3 linked regions of the Homo sapiens genome follow. The protein of the gene in region 3 interacts with the protein of the main gene of each other region in a biochemical or structural test. Each region holds a gene or a part of one and is shown on either strand. Other genes may lie near its edges. The genes, in order: TGFBR1, RYR3 and FKBP1B.

What was found.
Region 1: the proteins of FKBP1B (region 3) and TGFBR1 form a complex in vitro, tested with the Homo sapiens proteins (one study listed by BioGRID).
Region 2: the proteins of FKBP1B (region 3) and RYR3 form a complex in vitro, tested with the Homo sapiens proteins (one study listed by BioGRID).

Annotation. Positions count from the first base shown.
Region 1 is NC_000009.12:99,134,756-99,145,678, reverse strand, and holds part of TGFBR1 (TGF-beta receptor type-1 isoform 1 precursor), read right to left. Parts: intron 7,821-10,923; coding exon 7,590-7,820; intron 3,144-7,589; coding exon 2,976-3,143; intron 948-2,975; coding exon 791-947; intron 183-790; exon of another isoform or gene 67-182; intron 1-66. UniProt on the Homo sapiens protein: Transmembrane serine/threonine kinase forming with the TGF-beta type II serine/threonine kinase receptor, TGFBR2, the non-promiscuous receptor for the TGF-beta cytokines TGFB1, TGFB2 and TGFB3.
Region 2 is NC_000015.10:33,654,448-33,665,370, reverse strand, and holds part of RYR3 (ryanodine receptor 3), read right to left. Parts: intron 5,652-10,923; coding exon 5,565-5,651; intron 5,175-5,564; coding exon 4,948-5,174; intron 3,219-4,947; coding exon 2,423-3,218; intron 1,835-2,422; coding exon 1,634-1,834; intron 1-1,633. UniProt on the Homo sapiens protein: Cytosolic calcium-activated calcium channel that mediates the release of Ca(2+) from the sarcoplasmic reticulum into the cytoplasm in muscle and thereby plays a role in triggering muscle contraction. May regulate Ca(2+) release by other calcium channels.
Region 3 is NC_000002.12:24,050,762-24,061,684, reverse strand, and holds part of FKBP1B (peptidyl-prolyl cis-trans isomerase FKBP1B), read right to left. Parts: intron 7,784-10,923; coding exon 7,736-7,783; intron 7,582-7,735; exon of another isoform or gene 7,493-7,581; intron 7,213-7,492; exon of another isoform or gene 7,069-7,212; intron 872-7,068; coding exon 759-871; intron 1-758. UniProt on the Homo sapiens protein: Has the potential to contribute to the immunosuppressive and toxic effects of FK506 and rapamycin. PPIases accelerate the folding of proteins. It catalyzes the cis-trans isomerization of proline imidic peptide bonds in oligopeptides.

The sequences.
Region 1 (10,923 bases), on a different chromosome or scaffold from region 3:
GGCCATATTATTTAACCTCCTCAAGGTGGTTTCCTCATCTGTGAATTAAAGGGTAATAACACCTACCTAATTAAGTTCTTTTGAAGACTCATGGACTCAACAAATATCTACTGAGGATCTACCATGTATTAGGCACTGTGATGGATGCTGGGAATACAAGGCTGCTCTCAAGCAGCTTGCACCTAATAGAATATATAGGCAAATAAATAAACAGTTACAACATAACGCATAAGTGCCTCAACGGTCCCAGTTCAGTGTGCTATGACAGTCCCTGGCAGGGACTCCTAAGATTTTTGAGGACTAGAAAAAACTTCCTACGGGAAAGGTGGGTATGAGGCTGAGAAACAGTAGGGTAAAGTATGCTCCAGGAGACAGCATGTGCAAAAGTTCTAAGAAAGCAAGAAAGGCATATTTTTAGGAACTGAAATATGAAAATAGCAGGGCTAGCTACTGCACAGTATTTGAGAAGGGATTAAATGAGGTAATATACGTAAAAGACCTATTAGACGATTGGCACATAGTAGGTGCCCTATAAACGTTAGTTACTACTGTTATTATAATTAACATGCCTAATGATATTTTCTGGAAGGGCAACCTTTCATCAGCAGGCATCTTTTTAAGTCAGGTAACTCTGGCTTCAGAGCAGGCAAGACCATGAGATCTTCTTACCTGTTGGCAATCTAATAAAGTGCAAGTTTAAGCTGAGTTTCAGCAATGATATGTATATATGAAAGAGAAGGGAAAAAAGGTGATTTCAGAAGATATTAAATATAGTTGTTCAAAAGTATACCTTTTTGTTCCCACTCTGTGGTTTGGAGCAATATCAATGGTATCTGTGGCTGAATCATGTCTTACTGCCAGTCCTAAGTCTGCAATACAGCAAGTTCCATTCTTCTTTACCAAGATATTCTTTGATTTCAAATCTCTATGAGCAATGGCTGGCTTTCCTAAAGAATCAAAAATTAAACATGACTGCTTAAAAGGTAATACCAATCACAACTCACATCTTTAGGTTCAAAAGTCTCTTCTCCCAACCCAAATTATCAAAGCATTTCAGCCCACATGACCTACAATACTTACGGCATTATTAAACTCAAGTGAATCACTACACCAAAAGTCACTGAATTTATATTTCTTTAAAGAAAATGTGGACAATAACATGCTTTAAAAGATGAACAACTCAAAGACTGGGGCAAAAAAAAAGTTATCAGTTTATCTGTTGGTGCCTTATGAATTCTTTTTAAGAAACTTAGCCATAGACTGATATTCCAGCAGCCCAGGAACCAAGCATGTAGAACATCACTTCCCTATCAACTGCAATGTACTCAGTATTAAGTATATTATCTTTGATGCTAACCACTAGAAAATGTTATTAAAAAATAATAATTATAATGTGGAAAACCTGGAACCTTCATACACTGCTGGCAGGAATGTAAAATGGTTCAGGCACTTTAAGAAAATAGTATGGCAGTTCTTCAAACCATTAAATAGAGTTATCATATGATACAGTAATTCAACTCCTAGGTATATACCCAAGATAACTGAAAACATGAAACTACATACAACTTGTACACAAATGTTCACTGCAGCATTAGCTACAATGGCCAAAAGAAACAAACCAAATGTCCATCAACGAACGGATATATGACATATGCCATATCCATACACTGAAGTATTACTTAGCCATCAAAATGACTGAAGTACTCATACGTGCTACAACATAAATGAACCTTGAAAACATGCTAAGTGAAAGAAGCCAGTCACAAAAGACCACATATTGTATGATTCATTTATATAAAATGTGCAGAATAAGCAAATCTACAGACAAAAAGGAGCAGTTGTTGCCTAGGGCTAAGGAGTTTGGGAGGAAAGGGGAGTGACTGCTAGTGGCTACAGGGTTTCTCTTTGGAGTGAAGATATTCTAAAATTGACTGTAGTGTTTGCTGGCTGTACAACTCTGAGTATTCTAAAAACCACTGAATTTTACACTTTAAGTGGGTGAACTTTATGATGTGAATTATAACTCAATAAAACTGTTACAATCAATAATAATAATAACTACAAAGATGGAGCTAAGATGTGAACTAGCACTTATGCTGTATGTAAAGTGGGGAGTGGGGGAGCCATTGGGTTGCAAGTGGACAACTGCTAGAGCAGAGAGATATACTGGCATCTGAAATCCCACATGCACAAAAACTACAGCATACAAATGTCATAACTAAAACTTAGTATTTAATTTTTCAACTGTAAAACTATCTCATGCAGTCTCCTTATCTCAAGGTCAAATATAATTATTAGATGGCCAGATAACAGTTACCTAGCATGTTGATGTTTACAAAGCACTTTCACATTTCATTTGATACTACACATAAAAATATATTCAGTTGGACCTGAATTCTGAAACTGAGATCCTCAAAAATCATAAGATTGAATGCTACTTTTAAGAACTCAAAAAAAATCACAGTTTTGTTACAACGACTAGAGAATCTCTAAACAAATTTCCAGATTCCTAGCTCTACCTGAAATTTTGAACTGAAAGATAAAATGTTCTCATCTAAAAAATTTGTTTTAAATATCTCCAGTTAGGCCACCTACTGTTTTTGTTTTTGTTTTTTTTTCTGAGACAGGGTCTCTCTCTATTACTCAGCTGGGAGTGCAGTGGCATGATGTCTGCTCACTGCAGCTTCGACCTCCCAGGCTCAGGTAATCCTCCTACCTCAGCCCCCTGAGTAGCTGGGACTACAGGTGCATGCCACCATGCCCGACTAATTTTTTGTATGTTGGTAGAGATGCGGTTTTGTCATGTTGCCCAGGCTGGCCATGAACTCCTGAGATCGGGCGATCTGCCCACCTCAGCCTCCCAAAGTGCTGGGATTATAGGCATGAGCCACCAGGCCCAGCCTCCACCTTCTATTTTCATAGACATTATTCATGAAAATTTAAAGCTTAAATAATAGAACTGCTTATAGAATTACCTTGGGTACCAACAATCTCCATGTGAAGATGGGCAAGACCGCTCGCCGTGGACAGAGCAAGTTTTATCATTCCTTCCACAGTAACTGTGTATCTGTTTAAGTAATCAAAAAGGGATCCATGCTCATGATAATCTGACACCAACCAGAGCTGAGTCCAAGTACCATTGTCTGTAAAACAGAATTAACATTTCGGTTGGGCTGCAGACCATTTATGATTTATTTGTTCAATGGTTATTACTTTTTACTCTCAATCCTGAGTCACACACTGCAATATAATGCCACCTTAAGTCTGTATTTCCTTCACATTTTCTTCTACATTGTTTGTTTTATACTTTTATGTACACATCCTTTAGTTCCTCAGAGTAAGCCCCTCTTCTTGAGATAAGGCAAGTATAATTAATCCCATTTAAGAGACAAAGATGGTGACTTTTTTGAGTCTTCACAGATAATTGGTATCAGAGCTGGCACTCTTAAGTGCCTAGAAAAATCTCTGGGTCGGGTTGGGTGCTCAGTGGCTGTTCCTGGAAGGAGAGAAGGTTAAAAAAAAGGAAGGAACAGAGAGGGAAGCAAGGAGGTGAGAAGTCTCCGGAGACCAGTGTGGCCACAGTGGGAATGGAAGAGTATGGGACAAAACTGAAAGTGAGTTTCAACAAGAAATGACAAGCTTTAGTGACAGATTGTGTACACAGTTCACAAAGACGCAAGACAAGATGATTATGATTCCAAGGTTGCTAGCTTAGAAAAACAGAAATAGTGATACCTCTAACACATGGGGAAGCTGAAATAGGAACTGAAATGTCAGGAGCAAAACTGGAAAAGCTGGGACTAAACTCAAACAACGAGGAACGTGGGTTCCAAAATTTCCTCTGTAAGCCAAAACACGAGTTTAAAACATGTTTTCTCATAGGAATAATGGTAAAGACACTAGCTAGGCTCCTAAGCTAGACTGGTCCACGACAATCTAATTTAACCTAGAAGTAGCTGGAAAACCACATGCTTAATTAAGCCATGAAGAAAAAAAGCATTACAACATTAGGAGACAGCACAATCCAGTAAAAGATGGACGCTTAGAGTCATTCTAACCTGGTTGGAATCCACGGCCTGCCTGTTACTGACAAGGAGCCTGTTTCTCCTTTTATACAAGAATAAAGTCTTACTTTGTAAGACTGTTAAGATTTAAAAAACGGAATGCTAGATTCTTTAGGTAAGAAGTACATAAACTGTGCTCTTTCTTTCCCTGCTGGTTGTAAACCAAAAGAAAAAATCCATATTGACATGAAACAGCTTCTATTTTGAAGGTATTTGGTTGAAGAAGAAAACCAACTCTGATTAGAAGAGATTAAGAAAGGAATAGAAACTTTTCAGAAGATTCTGGAGGAGATTTCTGGGTACATTTAAAAGGACTTAGTATTAATTTGTTCTTCATGAACTTTATAAACTGATTCTGACCAAACTCGCACCCTTGCTTTTCCTTGATATAGGCACATCACTAGCTTATTTGCATGCCTCTTAACCATTACTGAATTTTGAAAAGCTCACAAATACAAGAAACAAAGTGGAAGACAGGCAGATGGAAGAAAGGGAAACCACAGGTTATGGACAAGATAGAAGGAAGGTTATATGTAAGGGGCCATAAATATAAAGGGCTGCCGGGGGTGGAATTAACTAAATCAGGAGAAGATAAAGGAACTGAGGTGGAGGGGCTAGGCTCAGAGAAAGTACATTAACCCCTGACAAAGAAGAAAGAAGGGGAGTAGGGAAGAGCCAGTAGGGTCAGCTAGTTCCCATGGTGACCACCAGATGACAGCATCAGCCTGGTTAGAAGTTCAGGGCACAGACTCACCAACATTTTGTGCTGCTGTGTTTGTAACTTGGAATGTGACAAAATCCAGACCCTGGGTGAGGTTTAAGCTTTCAAATGGAGATTTGAGAGTTGCCAACATGGTAGAGTTTGAAACCATGAATGTGGCTATGTTCTTAAGGAAGAAATTACCACTTATAAAATCAGTACCTTCATATGAACCAGTGAGAAGAGTAAGAGTTGAGAAAACAAAGACAACTATGAAGAAGTAAGAAGGAACAAGGAAAGTCTAGGGTCATCAAACACAGTAAATAAAGAAAAGGTTGTTTTAAGAGTTGGGGGAGGAAATAAATGGTGATAAAGGCAGAAACGAAAATGAGAACTAAGGATTTGGTCAGACTGATTACTATTTTTTGTTTTGTTTTGTTTTGTTGTTGTTTTTTTTTTGAGACAGAGTCTCCCTGTGTCGCCCAGGCTGGAGTGCAGTGGTGCGATCTCAGCTCTGACTGCAACCTCCACCTCCCAGGTTCAAGCAATTCTCTGCCTTAGCTTCCCAAGTAGCTGGGATTATAGGCACCTGCCATCATGCCTGGCTAATTTTTTTGTATTTTTAGTAGAGATGGGGTTTCATCATCTTGGCCAGCCAGGCTGGTCTTGAACTCTTGACCTCGTGATCCACCCACCTTGGCTTCCCAAAGTGCTGGGATTACAGGCGTGAGCCACTGTGCCCGGCCTGTTTTGTTTTTAACTTAAGAGGTATTACATTGTCAGGTGCCACTGATAATCGCTACCTACATTCATCATATACCTCACTGCCCCGTCTTAATCAAACACTATACACCTCCACATATGATGCAATAGGATGTATATAATATCCTTAGTATGTATTTTGAGAAAACCAATAAAACTCCAATTAGGTTTAGCTTCTAAATCTAACTACCAGTTTTCAGAAAAGATAGAAGAACAAGTTAAGAGACACTATGGAAATGCAATCAGCAAAATCCAGAATGTGATAGGCCCTTCAGGATAAACAATCCAATTTCTTCAACAAATAAGCTGCGAGAGGAGAAAAAAGATGAAGGGGGGACCTAAATTTTAAGACACATAAGAGAAATATCAACTAAATATAACTTGTGGACTTAGAATCATAATTTGAATAAATAATTTTTTTAATAGGAGACAATTATAGAATTGAACCTAACTGGATATTTGATAACATTTAAAAAACTGACAATGGTAGTGTGGTTGTTTCATAAAAACATTTCCTCATCATTTGAAGATACAAATTACATTTTATAAGTGTTTACAGATGAAAACATATTGTCTGGGACCAGCTTCAAATAACACAGTTAGGGCAGAGTAGGTGGGATCAGACATCAATTATGATTGGCAGTGACCTGACAACTGTTGAAGCTGGACGATGAGGGATCACTGTAACTACTCTGCTTTTCTACATATTGGAAATTTTCTACAAATAAAAGTCAATAACAAAAAAAAGCAGTACATGCTTGTAAATAAATTTGAAAACCCAGAGAAGCTAAAAGAAAAATAATAAAAATCACCCATAATTACCAACTGAGGTTAAACACTGTTAATATTTGAATAAATAAATATTGCTGAAGTAAATGGAAGGTGGGAGAAGGAAAAAGATGACTACAGGTCTGGCCAAGCTAAGAGATAATGACAGCATTTTTTTTTTTTTTTAAATAGGAAAGCTGGGAAATACATTTGATTCAGGGGTAGGGATGACAAGAGTGGAGCTGAAACACAAGTCTCTGACAGAGGCAGTAAAAATAGGAATCGTGGGGGCTGGGCACAGTGGCTCATGCCTGTAATCCCAGCACTTTGGGAGGGTGAGGTGGGTGGATCACGAGGTCAAGAGATGGAGGCCAACCTGGCCAACATGGTGAAACCCCATCTCTACTAAAAATACAAACATTAGCTGGGCATGGTGGTGCACGCCTGTAGTCCCAGCTACTCGAGAAGCTGAGGCAGGAGAACCACTTGAACCCAGGAGGCAGAAGCTGCAGTGAGCCGAGATTGCACCACTGTACTCCAGCCTGGCTACAGAGCGAGATTCCATCTCAAAAAAAAAAAAAGTAGGAATCATGGGCATAAAGGTATTAACGGAAGCTAAGAAAGTGGCAGCAGCACAGTCTAAGGTCACTGCTTGCAGTCCCCACTCATTCTGACTCCCTGCTGACAGGCTTCCTTCCTTCTTCAGCATCTGACCTGACACTGGGCCTCAGGCACCAGCATGATAGGCAGAAAAGTGTCCGTACAGTTACCAGGGTGGTTGAAGAAACAATTTATCTCTTTGAGTTTGCCAGAAGATTCATCTATTTAGCCCTTGGCAACTCAGAACACTGACAAGTTATTTTTACTCTCCCCATTAATAAGGTCAATAGTCCATATTGAAACATCCTACTGGTCAGGAAGAGATTAAAAGGAAACAGCTATCTGAGCCCTATTCTCAAAATTTTGAGCAAGTTTATATATCTTTTCTATATCATGAGTACTCTCAATAACTAACTGCCCTAAACTAAACCAACAAAGTACATGGCTTTTTAAAATAGCTCTTTTATATTTTATAAAACATTAAGAGATTTTAGGAATGCTATCAAGAGTCAAGAAAATCTTGAAGAAGTTCCTAGTTCTAAAAGTTACTAATATATTGTATTCGACTTAATGGGTCTAATCTACATGAGAGACATCTATGTCTCATCTACTTTGATGATGGTTAGTCACCATATCTGTAAAGACTTAAAGAGATCTTGTTATATATAACATAAGGAAAAGCAAATGTTACAGACCTTTATTGTCTGCTGCTATAAATCCCAGGATGTTTTCATGACGTAACATTACAGTTTGATAAATCTCTGCCTCACGGAACCACGAACGTTCTTCTCTAGAGGAGAATATCTTAACAGCAACTTCTTCTCCCCGCCACTTTCCTCTCCAAACTTCTCCAAATCGACCTTTGCCAATGCTTTCTTGTAACACAATAGTTCTCGCAATTGTTCTCTGAACAAGCAATGGTAAACCTAAAGGTAAAAATAAATAGTACTCAACACAATCAACAATATTACATGTTTCAAACATCATGATAGGCACTAATGAGTGACCCAGAAAACTGATACTTTAAGCTATCCCTTTAGGAATTTATCTCACTGGGGAGATATTATATTTGCAATAAAATAACTAATTAAAAAAGGAAAATAAGATAATAAATATAATAAAAGAATCCAGAAACTCCTGCTAGAGGGTCAAGGTAGGCTTTGTAAAAGTAAGTTGAATTTTGACTATCCCTTAAGTACGGTGGTTAGGCAGGAAGAATGTGCAGGCAAAGGTAGAGGGAAATGAATGACACATTTTTAGGGAAGCAGCTTGGGCAATCAGAGAGAGGATATATGTGGCAAAGCAGTGAAAAGAGAAAGTAAGCTGTCACCAGAAGATGAAGAGTACTGAATACCAAGCTCAAAATAACCAATGAAGAGCTTTAGGTAAAAGAGGAACCTTTAAAGATTTCTGAGAAAAAGGGCCATGGCTGGAAGCAAGATAATTTTAAAATCTTATTTTAGAAAGATGAATCTCGTAACAGTTTCACTGATGGGAGGAAAAAAGGATGTGAACGCAGAAACACAGAAGTAAATTCTGGCTTTTTGATAAGTCAGTAAAAATCACCACAGAAACTATTTCAAGGAAAGCAATTTACTTGCTGACAACTGGCTACATAGACAACACTAGTATCTTGAAGAACAAGGCTAAGTAACTTACCTTGGTAATGGAGCACTGTTTTTCCACTAATGGAACTTGGCTTTCTCCAAAATATGTATTTTTAAGTATTGCCATACTTACTTCATTTAAAAGGGTTTACTAACTTACCTGCAACATTTAAGTGGCACTATATGTGAGACCATCACTTAATATCCTATCCACCATCCGGTAAGTGTCATTTTAAATTACATTGACACTAACAAAGAAAATGCCAGTGTACATCATGTTCCTCACTCATATCTTATTTATACAATCTATGTACATATAAATTGGTGTCATTTATAATCTATACTCAAAGCTGCTTACTAGATCAAATTAACCCAATGACAGTAAATGAAATTATCTGCTCTCTTTGGTTCCCTGATGTGAAATGCTTATAAATCCAAACGTTAAATCTTTAAAGCGATCAGAAGCTCTTCTTCTTAAGTTTCTCAAACGGGTCCTTTCTTCCTCTTGCTCTACCCTCCCCACCTCCTGTAAAGTAGTTAGCAGTATAACTATAAATAACTGTTTGTGTTTATAAGGAGGCTGCTAGTTAGAAACAGATCTGTCAGAAATCCTTATTTAAATCATAGAGCTCTTTCGCACTATGTATAATCAATTCTAATTATGTTGTTTAGTGTAGATACTAATTTATTACATTTTATGAAAGCCTTGTAGAGGGCCACACCACAGACTTAAAAGTACACTTAAGAGTTAATTTCAGGAGACTAATCTGGAAATTGCAAAGACAAGTAATAAAAAAGAAAAAGGAATCACAAACACAAATTCTGAAAACACCTGACAGGTTCAGGACTTGTGTAAATGGTATGGTCAAGAAAGGCCAACAGGACGAGGAAAGGTTTTGTCTTCCCCTTTATCACTGGATTCTAGATGTCAATTAAAATTAAAAAGCAAATCTTGATCCACTGTATTATCTATATTGGATTACTTCACATGAATAGTTGAGCATTTTTAAAAAGTTAACAATTGGCCAGGCACAGTGACTCACACCTCTAATCCCAGCACTTTAGGAGGCCGACGTGGTTGGATCACTAGAGATCAGGAGTTCAAGATCAGCCTGGCCAACATGGTGAAACCTGGTCTCTAATAAATATACAAAAATTAGCTGGGCATGGTGGTGCACACCTGTAATCCCAGCTACTCAGGAGGCTGAGGCAGGAGAATTGCTTGAACCCGGGAGGTGAAGGCTGCAGAGAGCTGAGATCCCACCACTGCACTCCAGCCTGGGCAACAGAGTGAAACTCCGTCTCCAAAAAAAAAAAAAAAAAAAGTAACAATTTTCTTCTAAAGACAAAACTGAATAGGCCTAATTTAGATCTCTATATTCTCTGCTCTACTCTTCTGTACCTTTAGAACTGTTTGAGAGAAAACTTCAAAAGGGAAACAGGGACTCCACAGCTTTACATGCAGTGAACAGGAAATAAGACCCGAACAACATGCATATATTACAAGAGCTCATAAGCTGCACACGCCATAACAAACACTGGCCTAGAAGACTCACTTACAAAAGCTGGCACATATGCACATGTGCACACTCACACACTTGGCGTACAGCTGCCAGAACCCAGCTCTTCATTGTATTCCCTGAAGTTCCCAAGTTAAAAGCACAGTCTTTAGAGGTAGAGACAGGGCCTTTCCTTAATTATGGTCACGGTACTAAGTAATAAACATATGAATTCAGAATGTGAAATGCTTATACCTTTTCCTCAATTAATGAAAGAACTAAAAACAGAGTATTACAAACACACAGTTTACTTATTCACAGGCACTAGTCTCATGCCTAAGGTGGCATTAAGGATTTATAATGAATAGAAGGGAAACAGATGGCATTTTCTGCTATTATTCACCAGAAGATGGCTTCTGCCTGGATAGGTTTGGAGGGAATTCAGTACACAATGAACTATGACAGGCAAAGGAGGCCTTAAACTAAGTTTTGTACAATGTGGTCAACTGATACTGTATGTTAGATTTTTCCTCCAAGTATGTTTTCAATAAGAGTAACACTTGTCATTTGGACATAACTCTACAATTTACCAAGTGCTTTCATGCAAACATTTTGTCTTGCTTGAACTCACAACAATCCAATGATGTGCACAGAATCCATCACTTTCATTTTAAAGATGAAATAACTCAAGCATGAGACATTGGTTAACTGCCCAAAGCCACAGAGCTAGCAAGCAATGCAGACAAGTTTTTGCAGGGTAAGGCATCAAAGGAGGGAGAGAAGCTTTCAGAGAACAGAGAGCTATGGTCCCTCATGGATCTAGAAATATATATATATATATATATATATATATATATATATATATATATATATATAATGGAAACAGAATTATTCCATTGTTTCTCATGTTTATATCTTAAAAG
Region 2 (10,923 bases), on a different chromosome or scaffold from region 3:
CACACAAAGCAATCTAAATGGGATCCTTGCAGGAACCCTGGGAGGGAGATGCAAAAATTATCCACATTTTGCAGCTAAAGAAACAGATACAGAAAGGTCATGTGGAAGACCACACAGCGAGCAATGGGGGAGCCAGTTTGGGAACCCACAGCCCAAGGCCAACATGTGTTACCATCACCATGTCATTGTATCTTCTGTTATTCACAAATACATATGAAAGAGCCAGAATACGCCCAGTGAAATAGGGAATATGCAGATCTATTGCCAGTCTAAAAGCAGCCTGACAACATTTGTAAAGCCTTCAGGAGTAATTCTTGGAAAAATAGCACACTTGTGCATTTTGTGTGGTGCAAATGATCTGTTCCAGTCAATCCAAAGGGCTTTCTCATTTTGCAAAGGGATGATAAGCTTTACCCACTCATTAGCCAGGCTGGTATCATTCAAGAGAGTCTTTTGAAAGCCAAGATATGTCATTCATTTTTAAGCCAATATAGATATCTACGTTTTAAAATAGGTTAGGAAAGTAATTGGATGGAGTTGTAGTTCTGCCATTAACATAAAATGGTGGTAACTATATTGACAACACTTTATGGACAGGCTGCTTGTTTTATATACATGTATGTATGCTTACTCTATGACAGGCGTCATGCTAAGCAATCCAAACAAATTATCTCACGTGATCCTTGCAAGAACCCTGGGGAGGAGATGCAAAGATTACCTACATTTTGCATCTCCCTCGCAGATGTATACATACGTATATATATATATATATATATATATACACACACACACACATATATCTATATATATATGTGTATAAATATAATCCAAAGATCTGGTTTCAAAACAAAAACTACTTCCTTCGCTGAAAGATTTATCTTTTCTTTTGAACACTTAGGGAGCAGTGGTCAACCCATCTGCAAGGTCTAAGTGAGCCACTGAGCAGCGGGGAAAATGGAAACTCCTATTCTACAGAATGTGTCTCCCTCATTTAGAAATTTCTCACTAGGATCTTGACTCTTCTTAAAGAAGCCCTTCCCATCGGGGTAAGGCTAACCCCAAGGTGGGTACTGTAAAGAATGAATACAACAAATCACAAAGATGACTCACTCACTGAGTCCCCTTCTCCAGGCTCCATGGAGCTGGGGAGGCTTTGTGAGAGAGTCGTGCCACCGGCAAGGGGGTTTAGACGCATTAGAAGAAGAAGACTGTGTGCCAACTCTCATAAGTAGGGGCAGGTTGACCCTATTCTGTTGGTAACTGATAGACAGGTAGTGACTTCTGCAAGGGTTGGCAGAAATCCTTCTGAGTGGTGTATCCTTGCTGAGGAGACAATTGAATCCCAACAGTGGTCTGGTCTTTGAATCAGTAATGGAGGCATTGGAGAGGGTTAAAGAAGGGAGGAAGCCCTGCCACGTGTGCAGTTTAGAAAGGGGTATTTTCCTACCCAAGAGAATTGGCACATATTCCTTAGCTTTCAGGACTAGGCCTGTCTCCTGGTATTGCAGTGGGTCTTTTCATCTTCCATAGCTCTTGAGGCTGCCCCAGAGACCATAGAGGTTTCATGTGCCCTGTTCCATAGGTCTCAAGTTCTTCCATAGGAACTGGACAGAGGCTCAGGAAGGACCCTCACCTGCTCCTGTGGGGGTGAGCGGAACTCCTTGGTCTTCCGGGCAGTCAGGGCCGCAGACATGTTCAGGGCCTGCATGAGCTCATTGTAGCGGAACTTCTGATTTGCCTGCAGCTTGGAGACATAAATGTCACCAAATGCCACAATGGCCTCCACTCGGTGCTGCAGCTCACAGTCGCAGAGATAGCTGAGGAGCTCACACATCTGCAATGAAAGTATTATATAGATAACACTTTGTGTACTTTGGTGAGGCTGCTAGCATGCCCATTTTACAGACAGTAGCACTGAGACTTAGACAAAGTAAATTGCCACACAGTAGCCATAAAGCTGTTACTCAAATCTTCACCATTAAGTCGAAGGCAATAACAGAAAACAGCTCACTAAAGACAGAAGAAATCTGCCTATGGAGAGAGAGAAAATATTTCTAAGAAAATAGTTTCCCAGGAAGCTGAGTAGAAAAACCAGCTCCAGATCATGCACGTGAATGCTGCCTCCCTTTCTGAAATGTTCCAGTCCTGGAGGATGGAAAGTAGAGATGTTTGTCCTTCTCTCCATCTTTCATTGTTTTTTGCACTGTTTTTCTGGGATGAGTTGTTTTGGATTGTTATTACCAATCTTATCACTTTTAGAACTTATTCAACAACAAGCACCATAATCATCAAGCACTCTTGGTCAGTCACTATGCCAAGCACTTGACATACCTTACCTCCTTTAATCCTCAGTGTGTTCCTGATATTTTGATCAAAGCAGAAGATCTATTAACCTGCCTCCACTTAACCACCTGCAGCTTACCTGCAGCTTGACGGATTCGGGTAATCGAGTCTGCAACAAGCCTTTGACAGGAGCCTCCTTGCCGGCCTTCTCCCCAGCCTCCACAGCCTTCTCCTCCACCTGGGTCACTTCCTCCTTTTCTGCTCCCTCCTCTGTCCCCGCACTATGCTCCCCAAACACAGAGGGATCAATCAGGAGGAGGATCTGCCGAACATCATCATCATCAAACACGCCCATGACCAGCAGGGTTCCAATGAGTTTCAGCACAGGCACAAACTGGAACTCCACAGACCCCCCTACAGGGTCTCGGATGTGGGCCCCGCTGCACTGCACTGCCTCTGTCAGCATACTCAGAGCCTTCGTCCTGAGACTCTCCAAGGGAATCTCGGGGCTCTGCTTTTGGTGATCCTCACCAGTCACAACAAAGCAAGGGGTGGAGAACCTGAACCCGGGCTTGAGACATGTTCTCAGGCCCACCCCAGGCAGTCCATGCCTCTTGGACTCGTCCGGGAAGAGGCGGATATTCCTGGTGGTGCTGGTAATGGGGATGATGTACTCGTTCTTCATCATCAGCTTCCTCTCCTTGGCGCTGGCCAGGTGGATGCTGATGAGCAGGTCATAGAAACCAGATCGAAGGAGGCCGGGGAGGTACTTGTTGTCAATGGCATAGAAGAGCTGGGAGAGGTCCACGTGGCTGCACAGGGCGTAGGCCACGCGGCTGTTTCCCAGGGCGCACACCGCGCTGTAGAGCCTCAGCGTGTGGTAATGGAACCGCATCAGGTCCTCCTGCTCACAGAGCTCCAGGATATCCACACACCTGAGGACAGGACGAGCAATCAGCCACACCAGGGGGAGAAGAACCCACCAGAATCCAGCTATTTCATCCAGCCCAACAAAGGCAGGGTGGGTGGAAGGTTGGAGGGGTCTCTGCCACAGTTTCTCTTATGGCTTATCATGCCTCTCTCAGCTCTGGTCCGTATTCCAGTTCCTAGTACTCCACTGTATTTAACTACAAGGCTCTCAAAAGCCTGCAAGACACTGGTTTACCAAATATGAAAGTCTTCATTATTAGGAAAAAATCCGAAATTCCCAAACAGAAAACATTCACATATATGAGAGTGATGACTTGGTCGTCTTACTTGTAGGATCAAGCAGATGTTTCATTTCCCTCAGAAATGTAAAATCTCCTCAGAAAATGTAGATTATGCTTTCTGTCAGTCTACCGTCTACATCAGGGGTTCCCAATCCCGGGGCCATGGACCAGGACCAGCAATAGATTTTCATAGGAGTGTAAACCCTACTGTGAACCGTGCATGCGAGGGATCTAGGCTGCATGCTCCTTATAAGAATCTAACGCCTGATGATCTGAGGTGCAACAGTTTCATCCTGAAACCATCCCCTCTACCCCCTCCCCCAGCCTCACCCACCACTGTCTGTGGAAAAACTGTCTTCCATGAAACCAGTCCCTGGTGCCAAAAAGGCTGGGGACCACTGATCTGTATCATTTGTATAAAGTCCAATCTACCACTATCCATGGGGTGTTCCTCCAACGACCTGAAAACAAACATACTTGTTTTGTTTTCACAAACATACTCTGCACTCTTGTCCAGAGAGGAAACACCTTCCAACCTGAAACCAATTAACATTATCCAGTTGGCTCTCTCTTTCTTGACTTAGAGGTCTGTTTGTATGTTGCTCCCTTGTTTGTGTGGGTCCAGGGCCTCGGCTCTAATCTCTGCTTAGATTTTTCATTTAGTCTCACGACTCCTCATGGATTTGAGGACCCTGCAGAATTGACTTACTTGGCTGGGCTCCTGGTCTTTTCTGCCCCTTTCCTGCCATGGCCTGCCCTGCTGCTCGTGACCCAATGGGACACCTAAATGGGACCTATGCAGGTGTCAAATACCTCAACCCTTTCCCATTGCTCTGCTTTTTTATTCAAAGAGGTCAAGGGATGGCAATAACCGTAACATTTATTTCTTACTATGTACAGAAACTGTACCAGATTATACTTATACAATCTCATTATTTTCCTCCCAGAAACCCTTTGGGTGAGCATTTCTCTCACTGTGTAGATGAAAAGAGCAATGTTCAGAGTACATAAGTAATGTACCCAAGGCCACAAAGCCAGAAAGAGAGAGCAATGGGATTGAACCCCAGCCATAATTAATAGCACCTCTTAGCAAGGGGAGACCAGGAACCTGATTCCTGATTCTCTAAGTCAAGCTAGAGTCTTCCCCTTCCTGTCATAAATGATGCATATTTCAAGGTAAACTAGTTTTTAATTTAAGGCATGGCACTGTTCCTTAATACCAGGCACTAGGAGCTGCAACAAAGGCCCTGTGGCAGGCACCTCCTAGTGTGTTTCCTGCTGTTTCTGAGTAATGAAAGTGGGAAGGAATAGAAACTGAGGCACTGGGGAAATCAAGTCATACTGGGACTGAGCAGGATCCAACACAGATGCTCCTGGTTTCCTTCTGGGCTGGCTTGGCTCTGCCTCACCTGCCCCTCAGGCCTGCCCCTTCCTTCGCGGGCCCCTCTGGTACCTGTTCTCCTCGGGGATGTGGAGCGCCATCATCTGCAGGGGCTCCAGGCACTGCACCACCCAGCCGTGGCGCTCGCTCACACGCTCGGTCTCCACCTTCAGGAAGCTGTTGGGCATGCGGCTCCAGAGCACGGGCTGGATGGTTTGGACGTCCAGCCGAGGTGGACACTGTGGGACTGGGTTCTTCTCTTCACTCCTGAATATGGCCGCTGACAGGGGCATTGCGTTCTGGGGCACGTGGGAAAGGCATTGGAAAAGAAACACACAGTTGCTGGATGACGCACCCAGACATTTTAACCGATATGGCCAGTATAAATTAAAGAGGGACAAATGTATCCAGGGATCTCTAAGGGCTTTACCAGCATTAATTAGCATTTCAAATAATGGGTTATATGAGCATTAATTGATTCTTTCAGCACCCAAAAGAGGTGGGAAAAGGGGAAGATAAGAATGCATATTCTACCATCTGAATGCCACAGGAAAGGGCAGGGCCTGGGGGTGGGGGGCTTATGGGAAGTGAACAGGCTTCTCCCATCTTCTGAGGCCTGGGATTTTCCCCCTAATGGTTAGTGCTGCTTTCTCTTGTCATGGCCATTAGATGAGAGGACAAATAAATACCTTCAGCTTTCCAAGTTCAAACTGAAACAAAGAAGTACTTGTAGGCTGCAGGAAGACTGCTGGAAACACTTTGGTATTAGGCTCCACCTGGAAATCAAAACAAATCGAAAGCTTTGCCCAGAGCTGGACAAACAACACAGCTGGCTCAGCCATTGGGTGTTTTGGTCAACAATCTCATTCCAATGACTGCTAGCTGTCTGGTCATTCTCCACTGCTCAGAAATTCGCAGAGACCAGTTATCTATCAGCGGAGATTGTCACAATTCCACACCTTAAACAGTGTCTCCACTCAGGGCTGAATAATCTCAGGTCCTTTCATTTTTTCTCTCAGATACCTGTAGCCAGTAGCTTCCTCCAGTGCACAGGACAGGTAGGTGTGAAGCTAACTCCCCACCAAAGGCATACCTGCTGCTGGTCACTGAACAGTGTGATGTGCTTGCTCTTCACAGAGCCCAAAGACACGTGGCACATGGCAGCACCATCATTCTCCACACCTGCCCATAGGAGATGATAACTGGGATAGGGTGGTGACTCAGGCAAACCAACATTAGTCAAGCAAGCCCATGGAGATCCCATGGTAGGGTTTCTCAACCTTGGCACTGCCGACATTTCAGGCCAGGTAGCTTTTTGCGGTGGGCGCCATCCCATGCACTGTAGGATGTTGAGCGGCATCCCTGCCCTCTGCCCACTGCACATCAGCAGCACTCTCTGCCCCCACCACAGTCATGACAACCAACATGGTTCCCAACATTGCCAAATGTTCTGTGAAGGGCAAAAGTACCCCTGATTGAGAAACACTGCTCTACAGGCAAAGACTGTGAGGTCCCTCACTGGAATAACAAAAGGACACTGTCTCCCTCTCAAAGCCCTAATTCTCCCCGGGTTCCTCTGGACTCCTCTCCATCCTCTCCACCCCCTTTGCACTCTTCAGCATTCCAGTTCTTCTGTTGAAGGGTTTGGCATTTACTGATTGTGCTGCAGCTGCCACTTAGATGAAACATTAGATTTATCAGTGTACCACATCAGGAGCTCCAGGTATTACTTGCTCCCTTTGATGGAGGAGCAGCCTCTGAATTCCATATTACTAAAGTGTTTTCAAGAAAGTCACTGGAGGATGATGGAAGACTACATAAAGTCTGCTCACACACTGGGACTTTAATTCCACCAACTGAAACCTTTTAGGTTGAAGCAAATATAAACATTAGGAAATTCTTGCAACTCTCCCCATCTATAAATGAGGGGATGGCAGGTGTGCTGGACATACCCTAAGGTGACCCCAATGGGTCATCATTCCCCTAGAACTTGTGTCTTGCTTTCAGCAAACAGAATGACAAAGATGAAGGACCTGTCACTTCCTAGATTATTTTATGTAAAACTTCATCTTGGTGGACTGGAGAGAAAGCTTCTCCAGATGACCTTGGAGATGTGAGCAGCTATACTGTTAGAAGGCTTACGAGAGGGCCACGGAACAAGGAATTCTTGGGGGCGGAAGGCGGGGAGAGTGGCCCCTGGCTGCAGCCAGCATGAAAACAGGACCTCAGTTCTACAAATGCAAGCAATTGAATTCTGCCAACAAGCACGTAAGCATGGAAGAAGATACTGAGCTCTAGAAAAGAAGGCAGCCTGGCTGACACCTTAACAATATCCTTGTGAGACCCTGGACTGAGGACCCAGCTACACTGTGGCCAGACTCCTGATCCATAGAAATCATGGGCTAATAAATATATGCTATTTTAAGCCGCTAAATTTGTAATTTGTAATGTGACAACAGAGAATGAGTATAGTGAGTTTTCTTTTTGTCAAAGCAATTGTCACAGGTTTTCTTTAAATAATGAACTTCCTCAATGTATTTAGACATAAGAGTTACAAAACCACACATTTTTATGGCTGTGACTTAGAAGATTGCATGATTTAGTGCTATCATTTGTTCATGATGAAATAGGCTGGATTGGTTAAACCCCAGACTTTCATCCAGTACATGATCCTTCTAGTACACAAAAGTGGCCTCACATTTCAGGTAAAAATATTTGATTTATACTGGATGTTCCATGGACGATATGAAGAGATAAGTGCCAGTAAAACCAAAATGTTGGAGTAGACTGCTAGTACTGCCTGCCTCTGCCTGAAATAAGCTTTGTAAATGACTTTCAACAGATAATGATGTAGTACCTATTATATACTTGCTTTGTGCCAGACCCTGAGTTCATGGTGATGAGACATGAATAGGAAATTCTGATTTGATGTTGTTCTGACTTTAGCTACAAGGCAGGAGTCGTCCCTGGGCTGGCTCCCAGATTTCTCAAATGCCCAATATGTGACATCTAGAACAACTTGTAGGCCTCAAGTCACTGCAAACTGAAGGGAGCAGAGCTCCTGTGGCTGAGGAAACTTCATCTGGACCAGTAGGAAGCCCATGCGTTTCTGCTAACAGGGAGAGAGAAATGCATTCAGTCGAATCACACCAGTATAGGGAGCCATAGCTTGAAGAGGGAGTTTTATTTTCAGGTCCCTCAGGACTGGTTCCTGAAAACTTCATAAACTGCCCAAACTCCAGGGCTCTCCTCAACCCTCCCTGCAGAAAGTAAGTGCTTTGAGAGCATTTAGGATGCCCTGGGATAGGTTTATTTTCCACCACGCAGAGTATAGTCTCACATGATAAACAAAGGAAATGTCTCTTCGATCACTAAAACAAGAAAAAAACACAAGTGTGGGCTCATGAGGGTGTAATAAGGATAAAAATGGGCAATTGGTGGTGTGGTAAGCAGGATTCGAGAAGGCCCTCTGGGACCCCTGGTGTTACTCTTATGATCATGCTATGTTGCACGGCAAAAGGCATTCTGCAGATGTAATGCAATTGTACTAACCATTTGGCCTCAAGATAGGGAGACCTTGTTGGCCTTTTCAAATTGCATGAGGCTTCTAAAGGCAGGAGTTTTCCTGCTGGAGGAAGAAGGGAAAATCAGAGAGAAAAACTGGACGTGCCCTTGTTGGCTTTGAAATGGAGGGGGCCACGTGTAAAGGAATGTGGGTGCCCTCTGGGAGCTGAGAGTGGCCCTGGCTGATAGCCAGCAAGGAAACAGGGGCCTCAGAATCTACGACCTAAGACCCATAATCTCAAAGAACTGCCAATACCTTGAATAAGCTCAGAAGTGGATTCACCTTAGAGCCTCCAGATGAGCCTGGTTCAGGCCCAGGGCACACTTTGTGTTTGGCCTTGTGAGAATCTGAGTACCCAGTCAAGCCTGCGGAACTCTGAAATAATGTGTGTTGTTTTAAGCTGCTAAATTTTGTGGTAACTTGTCAGGCAACAATAAAAAAAAAATGCCTACAAGGGGATTTCCCAGCCGTGGGTCAGTCTGGCAACACATACTCGGTGAGCATTCACTAGATGCCAGGTACTGTTTCATGCATGGGGAGGCGGCAGTGAGCACAGGAGAGGGCCTCTGCCCTCAAGGAGCTTACCTTCTAAATGAGGAACTTACATGCCCATGGATTGCGCAACCAGCCCAGATTTAGCACTGCCGTGGTATGCCACTGACAGTTTCCCTTTTGTATTTGAGGCACCTTTCATCACTGGCTGATCTGTTTTGTCCTTGCAATAATGGACATTCTTTTTCTAATCATGTGTGAAGGTCATGGCACAGGAATGGGCCTGAATTGAAAGCTAACCCCTCTTGTAAATCCAAACCTCATAGCTGCCTGTGTCTCAGACTGGTGTGCCTGGAGTGGCAATCACTGAGGAGTATCTCTTGAATGTAGATTTTATTTCTCAAATTCGCCACTGATTATATTAAGTGGACAGAAAAATGTGTTCAAATTGTTTATCACTATTTAATGGGGAGGTCTAGAAACATTGTTTGAGAGACTCCTTCTCTCATTATTTTGGTTTCTAGTCCTTTCTGAATCTGAAAGCCAGTGTATAAATATTGCTGGACTGTTCTTCTTGACATAATTGAAAAATGAAAATGGCTACAGCTGTGGAATAACAACGATCCCACTGTCAGGGACCAAATGCATGGCAGGACACGTTACTGTCTCGCCTGGAATGAGAAGGGGGCTGGCTGGGTGTGAACCTCTCAGGTTTCTGGACAGAGTCCTGATACTGTCTCCTTTGCGGCAGCATTCTTAAGGGCAAGAGTCAGGACTGGGATCGCTGAGCAGGGTCATCAGGATTTCTATGCACAGGGTGGAGGAAGGCTCTCCAGGAGGTAGGGTACCAGCACCCAGCCAAAAGAAGACAACTGACCAGCCTATGTCACCCAGAAGGATGGTGAAAGGTGGGCTAAAGCTGTCACAGTGTCCTCCTCTTCAACATCACAGGTTCTTTCCTGAAGCAGGCAAGTCACTGCTGCTGCAAATGCCATTTTAAAAAATTAATTATTTTTTTTGAACTTCCAAAGATCAGCTAGTCTTAAAAGTTATGAGATGCTTTAGCGTCCTCTGCAGCTCAGGGAGGACCCTTCAGTTAAACTCATTTCTAAAGTTAATGGGAAAAAGCTAATGGATTTTGAAGGACAGCAGTAATGTATATAAAACATTTCTCAGGGGATTTGGGGGTGGAGGAGATAGAATCATGAAAAAGTACTAGAAGAATAATACTTTACTTTCTGCCTCAAAGCCTGGCTTTGTGAGTGCATCTTTCTGGAAATAGCTGGTTGGGCCCCAGCTGCTGAAGCAAGCGTGCCAAGTGGTGATGATTCCACTTTCTCCCAGGAAGAGGAGGAGGTGCAGAGAGGGTCATGCACTGCAGGAGGTGCTGGAGAGACAAGGTGGCGGCCTCTGTGCCAACAGGCTGCTCCCCGCCCCCAGGAAGGGTTTGGTCCATCTGTTCTTAGTCAATGAACATTTCAGATGGGAGGTGGCTACTCTGTCTGCTGTCTACCTTACCCCCTCTCTCCAACCACAGGCCAGAGAACTGGCTGCCAAGAGGCTTTTCAGCCTGAAGGCTGTAACCTGAGGCTGATTTAAGAATCAGGGGTTTTATCCATGTACATCATAGCAGGATGTTTTTAATTTGCTATAGTTAGGTAAACTGGTGACCCTGAAAAACTGTTGGATGCCCTAAGTACGGCATGCCACTCTCCTGCTCAGAAACCTTCAATGGCTCCCCATTTCCTATCTATATCTCCCTAGCTTTCCAAACAAATTTCTTACCAATAACCATAAGAGCCCTATGCGATGTTGTCCACAGATCCCCAAACACACTTTCTGCTTCCCTATCTCCATGATACTTCTTGAGCTATGTATTCAACACTCTTCTCCTTCTACCCATGAAAATTCATTCTTTTTTTTTTTTTAAGACAGGGTCTTACTCAGTCACTCAGAGTAGGGTACAGTGGAACAATCATGGCTCACTGCAG
Region 3 (10,923 bases):
TGTGAATGTCCTGGTTTTGATAATTGTACTATGGTTATGCAAGAAGGGGAAGCTGGATAGAATATAGAAGAACTCTGTACTATTTCTTTAATATTTTTGTAATTCTGAAATTCTTTTCAAAAAAGCGAAAAAACGAAAAATTTTCTTGGCCTACTCCACCCCAACTCTTCCACTACCTCAGTCCCAGGCAACTGGTAGACCTCAGCTAGTTTATTTTTTTGTTTTGTTTTTTTGAGACAGTCTCACTCCATCGCCTGGGCTGGAGTACAGTGGCACAATCTCTGCTCACTGCAACCTTCACCTCCCCGGTTCAAGTAATTCTCCTGTCGCAGCCTCCCAAGTAGCTGGGATTACAGGCATGCACCACCACGCCTGTATTTTCAGCAGGGACGGGGTTACACCATGTTGGTGAGGCTAGTCTTGAACTCCTGGCCTCAACTGATCCACCCCATTCGGCCTCCCAAAGTGCTGGGATTACAGGTGTGAGCCACCGTGCCTGGCTCTCTCAGCTAGTTCTGAGCAAGCCTAGGGGGATGTGCTTGGGATGAGAGCCCCCAGGGACACAAAAGAGGTATGCTGGCAAGGAGAGGGGTGGGGACGCAAAGCCAGGAGGGGACACCAGATGGCGTTGCCATGCCCTGGCTGTAGAGTCAAAGCAGTAGTGGTCTGTGAGTGGGTGAAGGTGGAGGTGGAGGGCAGAGTGCTGATCCCAGATCCCCAACTCCCCAGATCCCCTTTAATGCGAATCCTCATCCTACCTGGGCTGCACCCTCTTCAAAACCTTTGATGACTTCCTGTTTGCCAATTCTGAACTTGAAAGGTTTGTTTCTGTCTCTGGATGAATCAAACTTCTTCCCATTTTGGAGCATTCCTGTCAAAGCAAGAATCGGGTGCAATAGAGCTGTGGTCATGAGTAAACTCCCAATTCAGATTCCACATGTCTAAAATGGAATGCCTTTTCTGCACACACCTGCTCCTCTTCCGATCCTCCCCATCCATCCTGTTGCCCAAGCAGGAAATCTGGACACTTCCTTCTGCCTCACCCCCACATACTGCCTATCACTAAGTCCTCCATATCTTTGGAATCCACCTATTTTCTTCATTTCTATTTTTATTTATTTATTTATTTATTTGAGACAGAATCTCAATTTGTCACCCAGGCTGGAGTGCAGTGGCACAATCTCGGCTCACTGCAACCTCCATCTCCTGGGTTCAATCGATTCTTCTGCCTCAGCCTCCCAGGTAGCTGGCATTACAGGCGCCCACCACCACACTCAGCTGATTTTTGTATTTTTAGTAGAAACAGGGTTTTGCCATATTGGCTAGGCTGGTCTTGAACTCCTGAACTGCAGGTGATCCACCCACCTTGGCCTCCCAAAGTGCTGGGATTACAAGCATGAGCCACTGTGCCTGGCCTTTTCTTTGTTTCTATTACCACGACCAAGTCACCAGCTTATCTCACCTGTACACAGGAACAACCTCCTAACTGGTCTTTTTGATCCTCTTTTACTCGCCTCCATTTCATTGTCCACTTGGCATCCAGACTGATTTTTTTTTTTCTTTAAACACAAATCTGATTCTATTACTCCCCTGCTCAAAATACTTCAATAGCTCCCCAGAGCAGAATCCAAATGCCTACCTTGCATACAGGCACTTCACAATCCGGCTCTGGCCTGCTTATAACCCTCTCTGTTCTCCCCTTCCTTCCCTTCCCTCTGTGTCCTTTTCAGGTCATACCTTTCTCAAATTCCTCTGCACTTTTCAACTTTTTTTTTTTTTTTTTTTTTTTTGAGTCGGAGTCTCCCTCTGTTGCCCAGGCTGGAGTGCAGTGGTGTGATCTCGGTTCACTGCAACCTCCGCCTCCCGGGTTCAAGGGATTCTCCTGCCTCAGCTTCCTGAGTAGCTGGGACTACAGGTACCTGCCACTATGCCTGCTAATTTTTTTATATTTTTAGTAGAGATGGGGTTTTGCTATGTTGGCCAGGCTGGTCTCGAACTCCTGACCTCAGGTGATCTGCCCACCTCAGCCTCCCAAAGTGCTGGGATTACAGGTGTGAGCTATCATGCCCAGCCAGACTTTTCAACTTTTTTATGCCACTTCCTCCACCTAAAGTTCTGTTTTCCCAGCTATTCCAGCCTCAGGTTGAGTCCTCGCATAAGGTTCCTAAGGTTTCCTAAGTTTCCCCCAAAAGGGAAAACCCAAAGGTTACATTATCCCCTACTGTAGGGAACAGTGTAAGGTGACCTAGCTGGTCAGAGGTGGCCTCCAGACTCTGTACTAAGAGGGCTGTTTGAAACCAGAACCCCCCCCCAGGTGCTGGTCCAGCAGTTCTGGTTCCCCCAGCCTCTGCTTCAGAAGCCTTGTCATCCTGATGTCCACATGTCATCTCAGTCCAGCAGCCCAAGGCCCAACAGCTATTCTCAATTCTTCTGTGACTCTGACTCAAAGATCAGACCTTCTGTAAATGATGCAGTTCCACGACTGCTCCCGGCAGTCCCTGGACCACCACAAAAGGCCATTTGGGACTAGAAAAAGACCTTGCTTGTACATCCAGAGACTGGGTTTTGACTTCACTCTGGCTCTAACTCATTGTGTGAGACTGGGCAAATCACTTCCTCTCCCAGGGCCTCAGATGTGTCATATTTAACATAGGAAGCAGGGCCAGCTTAGTGTAGGAGCATCTATGATGCTACTTCCTAATTCCTACAACTAAAATATATATTAGAGAAACAGTCTTATTTAACTACTTTCTGAGTAGAATACATTAAGCTTTTGCCCTGGGTACTAACTGAGGCAAAGAAGAAAACCCTTCTGGCTACACAGAGGTACATGCAGATGGATGCTAACAAGATCAAATACAATCGCATGCATTTGCTAAGGTTGCTAAGATATTCAAATACACAAAGATACTTGTGCATGCTCACATGCACTTATGCACTCACACTCAGGAGAAAAGCCCTGGTGGCCAAATAGATGCTAAGAAAATATTTACATACACAGATCTACATACATTCACACAGATACATACTTGTACAAATATGCACACAGATATGCAAACACACATGCACACATTCACACACTCCATTTATATACCGACTTTCCTTTCTCATTCCTTAGTTTCTTCAGGTTTCATGTGACTTAATCTACTTTGGATAAATAACTTCATTTATCTATTGCTACAAGTTAAGCCAAAACCATGCAGTCTAGAAACAGACCCACTTACATGGTGATTTGATTGGACAAAGATACCACTGCAATGCAGCAAATAAAGGTTTTTTTTTCTTGCATTAAGGTTGTTGAGTCAACAGTATATTCATATGGGGAAAAAATGAACTTTAACCCCTACCAAATCCACACACAAAAAAATCAATTCCAGATGAATCATAAACCTAAATATGAAAGATAGAATAATAAAGCTTCTACAAGATAACAAATAGAAGGATATCTTCATGACCTAGAGACAATTTTTTTTTTTTTTTTCCTGAGACAGAGTCTCATCTCTGTCACCCAGGCTGGAGTGCAGCGGCTCAATCTCAGCTCACTGCAACCTCCGCCTCCTGGGTTGTTCAAGTAATTCTCCTGTCTCAGCCTCCCGAGTAGCTGGGATTACAGGCATGCACCACCATGCCTGGCTAATTTTTGTATTTTTAGTAGAGACAGGGTTTCACCATGTTGGCAAGGCTGGTCTCGAACTCCTGACCTCAGGTGATCCACCTGCCTTGGCCTCCCAAAGTGCTGGGATTATAGGCAGGAGCCACCGCACCTGGCCTGACAGACAAAGATTTCTTAAACTGAACACAGAAAGCACTAACCATAAAGGGAAAGATTGATAAGTCAGACTTCATCAAAATTAGGAACTTCTGTTCAGGCCAGGTACAGTGGCTCACACCTGTAATACTAGCACTTTGGGAGGCCAAGGTAGGAGGATCACTTGAGCCCAGGAGTTTGAGACCATCCTGGGCAACATAGGGAGACCTTCCTCTCTACAGAAAAACTAAAAATTAGCCAGGTGGCCGGGCCCGGTGGCTCACGCCTGTAATCCCAGCACTTTGGGAGGCCGAGGCGAGCAGATCACCTGAGGTAGGGAGTTCGAGACCAGCCTGACCAACATGGAGAAACCCAGTCTCTACTAAAAATACAAAATTGTCCAGGCGTGGTGGCGCATGCCTGAAATCCCAGCTACTCGGAAGACTGAGGCAGGAGAATTGCTTGAACCTGGGAGGCAGAGGTTGTGGTGAGCTGAAATCGTGCCATTGCACTCCAGCCTGGGCAACGATAGCAAAACTCCATCACACACACACAAAAAAAAACCAAAAAAAAATTAGCCAGGCATGGTAGCATGTTCCTGTACTCCCAGCTACTTGGGAGGCTGACATGGGAGGAGTCCTTGAACCCAGGAGGTCAAGGCTGCAGTGAGCCATGATCCCTGAAGACTAGAGCCACTGAACTCCAGCCTGGGTAACAGAGTGAGATCCTATCTCAAAAATAAAAAAGAAAGAAAAAAATTTTAAAAAGAAAGAAAAGAAGAAAATATAAACTATAAAAAAAGAACTTCTGTTCAAAATATACTATTAAGAGAGTAAAAAGGCAAGCCATAGTGTGGGAGAAGATGTTTGGGATAGATATAACCAACAAAAGACTCATATCCAAAACATATACAAAACTCCTATAAATCAACAAGAAAAAGACAACCGGCCGGGCACCATGGCTTACACCTGTAATCCCAGTACTCTGGGAGGCCGAGGCAGGTGGATCACCTGAGGTCAGGAGTTTGAGACCAGCCTGGCCAACATGGCGAAACCCTGTCTCTACTAAAAACCTCAAAATTAGCCGGGCACGGTGGCACACACCTGTAATCCCAGCTACTCAGGAGGCTGAGGCAGGAGAATCACTTGAACCCGGGAAGTGTAGGTTGCAGGGAGTGAAGATTGCGCCATTGCACTCCAGCCTGAGCAACAAGAGTGAAACTCTGTCTCAAAAAAAGAAAAAGAAAAAGACAACCTAATTTTCTAAAATGGACAAAATTAGAGCAGTCTAAAGAGGATATCCAAATGGCCAGTAGGCACATGAAAAGGTGCTCAACTTCATTCATCATCAGGGAAACACAAATCAAAACCACAGTGACCAGCCTGGCCAACATGGTGAAATCCCATCTCTACAAAAAATACAAAAATTAGCTGGGTGTGGTGGTGCGCACCTGTAATCCCAGCTACTTGGGAGGTTGAGGCACAAGAATCGCTTGAACCCAGGAGGCGGGGTTGCAGTGAGCCAAGATCGCACCACTGCACTCCAGCCTTGGCAACAGAGTGAGACCTTGTCTCAAAAAAAAAAAACAAAAAAACCCACAATGAAATGGTACTGAACGCTCACCAGAGTAGGCCAAAACCAAAACAAAGCCTGGTGTGGTGGCTCATTCCTGTAATCCCAGCACTTTGAGAGGCCGAGGCAGGCAGATCACCTGAGGTCAGGAGTTTGAGATCAGCCTGGCCAATATGGTGAAACACCGTCTCTACTAGAAACACAAAAATTAGCCAGGCATGGTGGCGGGCGCCTGTAATCCCAGCTACTCGGGAGGCTAAGGCAGGAGAATCGCTTGAACCCAGGAGGCAGAGGTTGCAGTGAGCCAAGATCATGCCATTTCTCTCCAGCCTGGGCAACATAGACTCTGTCTCAAAAAAAGAAAAAACAAAACAAAACCAAAACCTGACAATAACAAGTGTTGGGGAGGACACAGGGTAACTGGCAGTCTCCTACACAGCTGCCTAGAGTGGAAACTGGCACAACGACTTTGGAAAGCTGTCAGACAGTACTGCTAACGCTGAGCCCAGGAGGTACCCCACTTCCAGGTATATACCCAACAGAAACATGCACATATGTCTGTACACATGTACACTAAGAGATGCCTGCAAGACTGATCAAAGTGACACTGTTTGTAATAAACAAAAACTATGAACAACCCAAATGTTCATCAACGGTAGAGAGGATACATAAATTGCAACATACTTGTACGTTAAAATACTGTAGAGGAATAAACCATTCTGGATATATCTCGCAGACATAATAGTGAGTGAAATAAGCCAAACACAAAAGAGTACCTACGCTGTGGTTCCATTAAGATGAAGTTCAAAAATAGGCAAAACCAATCCATGGAGACAAAAGTCAGAGTAATAGTTGCCAGCCAGGCACAGTGGCTCACACCTGTAATCCCAGCACTAGGAGGCCAAGGTGGAAGGATCACTTGCATACAGGCGTTCGAGACCAGCCCGGGCAACATAGTGAGACCCTCATCTCTACAAAAAATTAAAATTAGCCAGGCATGGTGGCTCATGTCTGTGGTCCCAGCTAGTCAGGACACTGAAGCAGGAGGGTCACTTGAGCCCGAGAGGTCGAGGCTGCAATGAGCTGTGATCACCACTGCACTCAGCCTGAGTCACAGAGTGAGACCCTGTCTCAAAACAACAACAACAATGACAAAAAAAAAAAAAAAAAGAAAAACAATGATAGCTACCTCTAGGGAGGTGAAATGACTGGGAGAAGGCATCAGGGGGACTTTTGGGGATGCTGGTTCTATGCTTGTATGTTCTATGCTTCTCTAGGTGGTAGTCACATAAATGTGATCACTTTGAAAAAATTCATTGACCTAGACATCTTACATTATGTTCTCTACTATATTTATATTTAACTTTAAAGTTTACCAAAAGTCCCATAGTCTCCCGCTATGTTTGATAAGACATAGTCTCTCCCAAGACAGGAGCTGCTGCCCTATGTATGTATTGTGAAAGGACTTTGCAAAAGGATGTTGTGGTTTCAGTAACTTGATAAATACTGGTCTGTCTACAACATGCAAAATTGTTAAATCAATTACACAGGTCAGAGGCCCCAGACGACCCATGGTAATTAGGCCACATCACCAGGAGATAAAACATGGTCCAGCCCACTGACATCAGCGACCAGCAACACAACTGCTGAAAACATCCACACCATCTGCCTAGAATTAACCTTGTGCTTCACACTGGCCCACAGAACTGCTAAAAATGGCCCCATCCGAGTATGTCCTAGGAATTAACCTGGGCTTGCTGTCTGCTAAGTGGCTGTCATCGAGTTTGCCACTTTAGGAAGCAGGTCACAAGGCAGGGTGCTCACCTCCCTTGGAACAAACACCTGCTCATGATCTTCCTGCCAGCAGTCCTGAAGAACTCACTCTACCTCGCCTGCAGATAAAGAGCATCCAACTGGGATCAGTCCCGCTCTGGGCTCCCTCAGTACCCAGAGAAAAGCACTGCCATCACCCCACCCCTCAAATGGCATCGGAGCCTCTGGGTGACTTGTCTGTCCTCTCCCCTCCTCTTCTTCTCTAATGATACTGCAGGATGGAGAGAAAGTCTGCGGGGAGCTCTAGGAGGGATTTCCAAATATCAGACAGACCCAGCAGGGACAGGGGCTCCACCATACCTGCAACAGAAGGAAGGGGACTGAAGGTGTTTGACTCACCTAGAAGCTGGCACCATGGATGGCCCTTGCTGGTAGAAGAGGGAAAGAGTTGGCCTTCCAAGCCTCCTTTATCATTCCCACTAGACTGGCTGGGAGGAGTAGAGGATGGCTGGTCACAGGGAGACCCTGCTGCCTTGGGCTTTAGCCCTGATCCAGAGGCAGGCACCTCTGGAGAGAAGCTCAGAGGACAGCCCTGCCTTGGGAGGGGAAGGACTGGGTGGGGGCTGAGGGGGTGAGACTTACCTGTGTAGTGCACCACACACGTTTGGCCCTTCTTGGGGAATGTCCTTCCTGCAGGGAGACATGAGGGCAGATGAAGGAGTAGGATATTGGAAAAACACCTGGGACATTAAGTATGATCCTGACCAAGAGCTCCAGCCTGCATTCCCCTCCATGCCATGGAGATGCCTGTGGCCCTAGTTCTGGCTCTGGGCCCTGTACGAGCCAGAATGAATCACGTCACCTCTCTGGCCTGGATTTACTTTACCCCCTCAATTTTCTCAATTCTGCTGTCTCCTGGGCTTTCCCACCACCCCACCCCCACTTTCTTTGATTGCCCCTTTTACTTCACATCATCCATTCCACAGACATTTACAGTTGGCCTCCTATGTGCCAGGCCTGGACCAGACTTCAGACATGCAGAGCAATGTATGAACTCATGAGGAAGGTAGGGAAACAGACACACAAATACCAGATTACAATGCAGATTATAATCCATCCATCAAAGATGAATAAACACAATAATTTACAAATATTTGCTGAGAGGCCAGGCATGGTGGCTCACATCTGTAATCTCAGCACTTTGGGAGGCTGAGGTGGGAGGATCACTTGAGCTCAGGAGTTCTAGATCACCCTGGGTAACATAGGGAGACCCCATCTCTAAAAAAAAAAAAAAAAAAAAAAAATCTTTTCAATTAGCTGGGTGTGGTGCCGCATACCTATAGTCCCAGCTACTGAAGAAGCTGAAGTGGAAGGATTGTTTGAGCCCAGGAGGTCAAGGCTGCAGTGAGCTGTGTTCATGCTACTGCACTCTACCCTGGGTGACAGAGCAAGACCCTGTCACAATAAACAAACAGACAAAACAAAACAAAACAAAACCACAAATATTTACTGAGTACCTATGGTGTGCCAAGCCTGTGCCTGATCACAGGGATACAGCAGTGAACACTACAAACAAGATCTCTATCCCTGTTCTTTTAGAGTTTACTTTTTTTTTTTAAGAGTAGGGGTCTCAGTGTGTCACCCAGGCTGGAGTGCAACAGCATGATCTCGGCTCTGTGCAGCCTTGACCTTTCCTGGGCTCAAGCAATCTTTCTTCCTCTGCCTTCTGAGTAGCTAGTACTGCAAGTGCATGCTGCCATGCCCAGCTAATTTTTTTAAAAAAAATTTGTAGAGACAGGGTCTTAACATGTTGTCCAGGTTGGCCTTGAACTCCTGAGCTCAAGAGATTCTCCCACCTCAACCTCCCAAAGTGCTGAGATTATAGGCATGAGCCACCAAACCCGCCCTGGAGTTTATATTCTAATGGACAGAGACAATACTTAAATATACAAAATGATTATGGATTATGATGAATACTCTAAAGAAAATACACACAATGATGTATTAAAGGGAGATGCAGTGGGACAGGCCATTTCAGACAGAGTGGTCCAGGATGGCCTCTTGGAGAAGGTGCCCCCTGGAGCTGGGACTTGAAGGATGAGCAAAATACTGGGAAATAGCACTTGGGAAAGGAGTAACAAGTGCACAGAATCAACACATTTGCAGTGAGCAAGGAGGCTAGGTGCTGGAAAGAAGGGAGGGAGGAGAGAGGTGGGAAGGACATGGATCATGCAGGGCTTGAAGAGCCGGATTTAATACTAAGTGCAATAGGAAACCACTGGAGGGTTTTAAGCCAGAGAATGACATAATCTGAATTAAGATTTTATAACATCACTCTGGCTGCTATGTGTAGGATGGACGGTTAGGCGTCTGTTGCAATAATCCAGACAAGAAATCAATGATAGCTTGATTTAAGGTGGTGGCAGCAGAGAAGAGAGTGAAAGATTGGAGACATATTTTCGAAGCGGAGCTGACAGGTCATGCAATCAGACTGGAAATGGGGTCCAGGATGAGGACAAAGGAGACAACAAGAACGATGCTTGGGTTTTCTGTTTGGGCAACTGGATGAATAGTGCAACTATTTCCTGAGATAGGGAAGACGGGAGGAACAGATTTGTGCGGGTGGCAATCTTGAGATGCCTATTAGACATCTGAGTTTATATTGCAAGTAGGCAGATGAAGAGTCTGCACTGGAGGTATAAATTTGGCTGGAATTTAAAGCTACGGGGCTGGATACAAAGCCTAAGGAAGCCTAACCACAGAGCCGATATTTAGAGGACTCTATGGGATCCTGGAGGAGGGAGCAGCTAACTGACCACAGAAGTCAAGGAAAACATCATAGAGGAGAGAATGGTGAAGCCAGGTCTTGAAAGACAAGTAAGAGTTTGCCAGAGGAAGTGAAAAAACACCATCTGGGAAGAGGGAACAACATGTAACATGTTCAAAGGCCCTCAGTCCAGCAATAGCGGGAACCCTGTCTGTTTCAACTGTGTCACCTTAGGGCCTAGCACACACGTTCAATAAATATTTGCTGAACGAGTGGTGTGTTTGACAACTTGCAGGCAGCTTGGGAAAGCTGGAGGAAAAAGTTAGTGGTGGGCTTAGGACAGGTGGTGAGAGATGAAGCTCTAGTGTGGAAGATGAGAATAGACCATAGCACCAAAGGCCCCTCCTGGGGGAGAGGGAAGAATCATTAAAACATCTTCTGCCTGAGGGAGGGGCATAGTCAAACATGCATTTTTTTTCTTTTTTTTTTTTGAGATAGAGTCTTGCTCTGTCACCCAGGCTGGAGTGCAATGGCACAATCTCAGCTCACTGCAACCTCTGGCTCCCAGGGTCAAGTGATTCTCCTGCCCCAGCCTCCCGAGTAGCTGGGATTACAGGTGCGTACCACCATGCCCAGCTAATTTTTGTATTTTTAGTAGAGACGGGGTTTCAACATGTTGGTCAGGCTGGTCTCGAACTCCTGACCTTGTGATCCGCCCGCCTCAGCCTCCCAAAGTGCTGGGATTACAGGCGTGAGCCACTGCATTTTAAGAAGAGTCTTCAGGCTATGATATAGAAAGGGAGTGAATATGAGATTGGGGACGAGATTGAAAGCAGGGAGGAGAGACTGAAGATGGGGAGATTAGCTCAGGGGCTGCTGAGGGATGAAAAGGCCTCAGGGAGATGCTTTCTGGGACCCAGCAGCAATGTTTCCTGCGTGGGCAAAGAAGCCTGTACTCCAGGGGATATCTGAAGTAGTGGCTGGGATTGGACAAGGAAGATGGCCTGGAGCCAAGAAGTTATCCAATTTCCTGGGGAGGGGAGCTGTTCATATTAATAATATC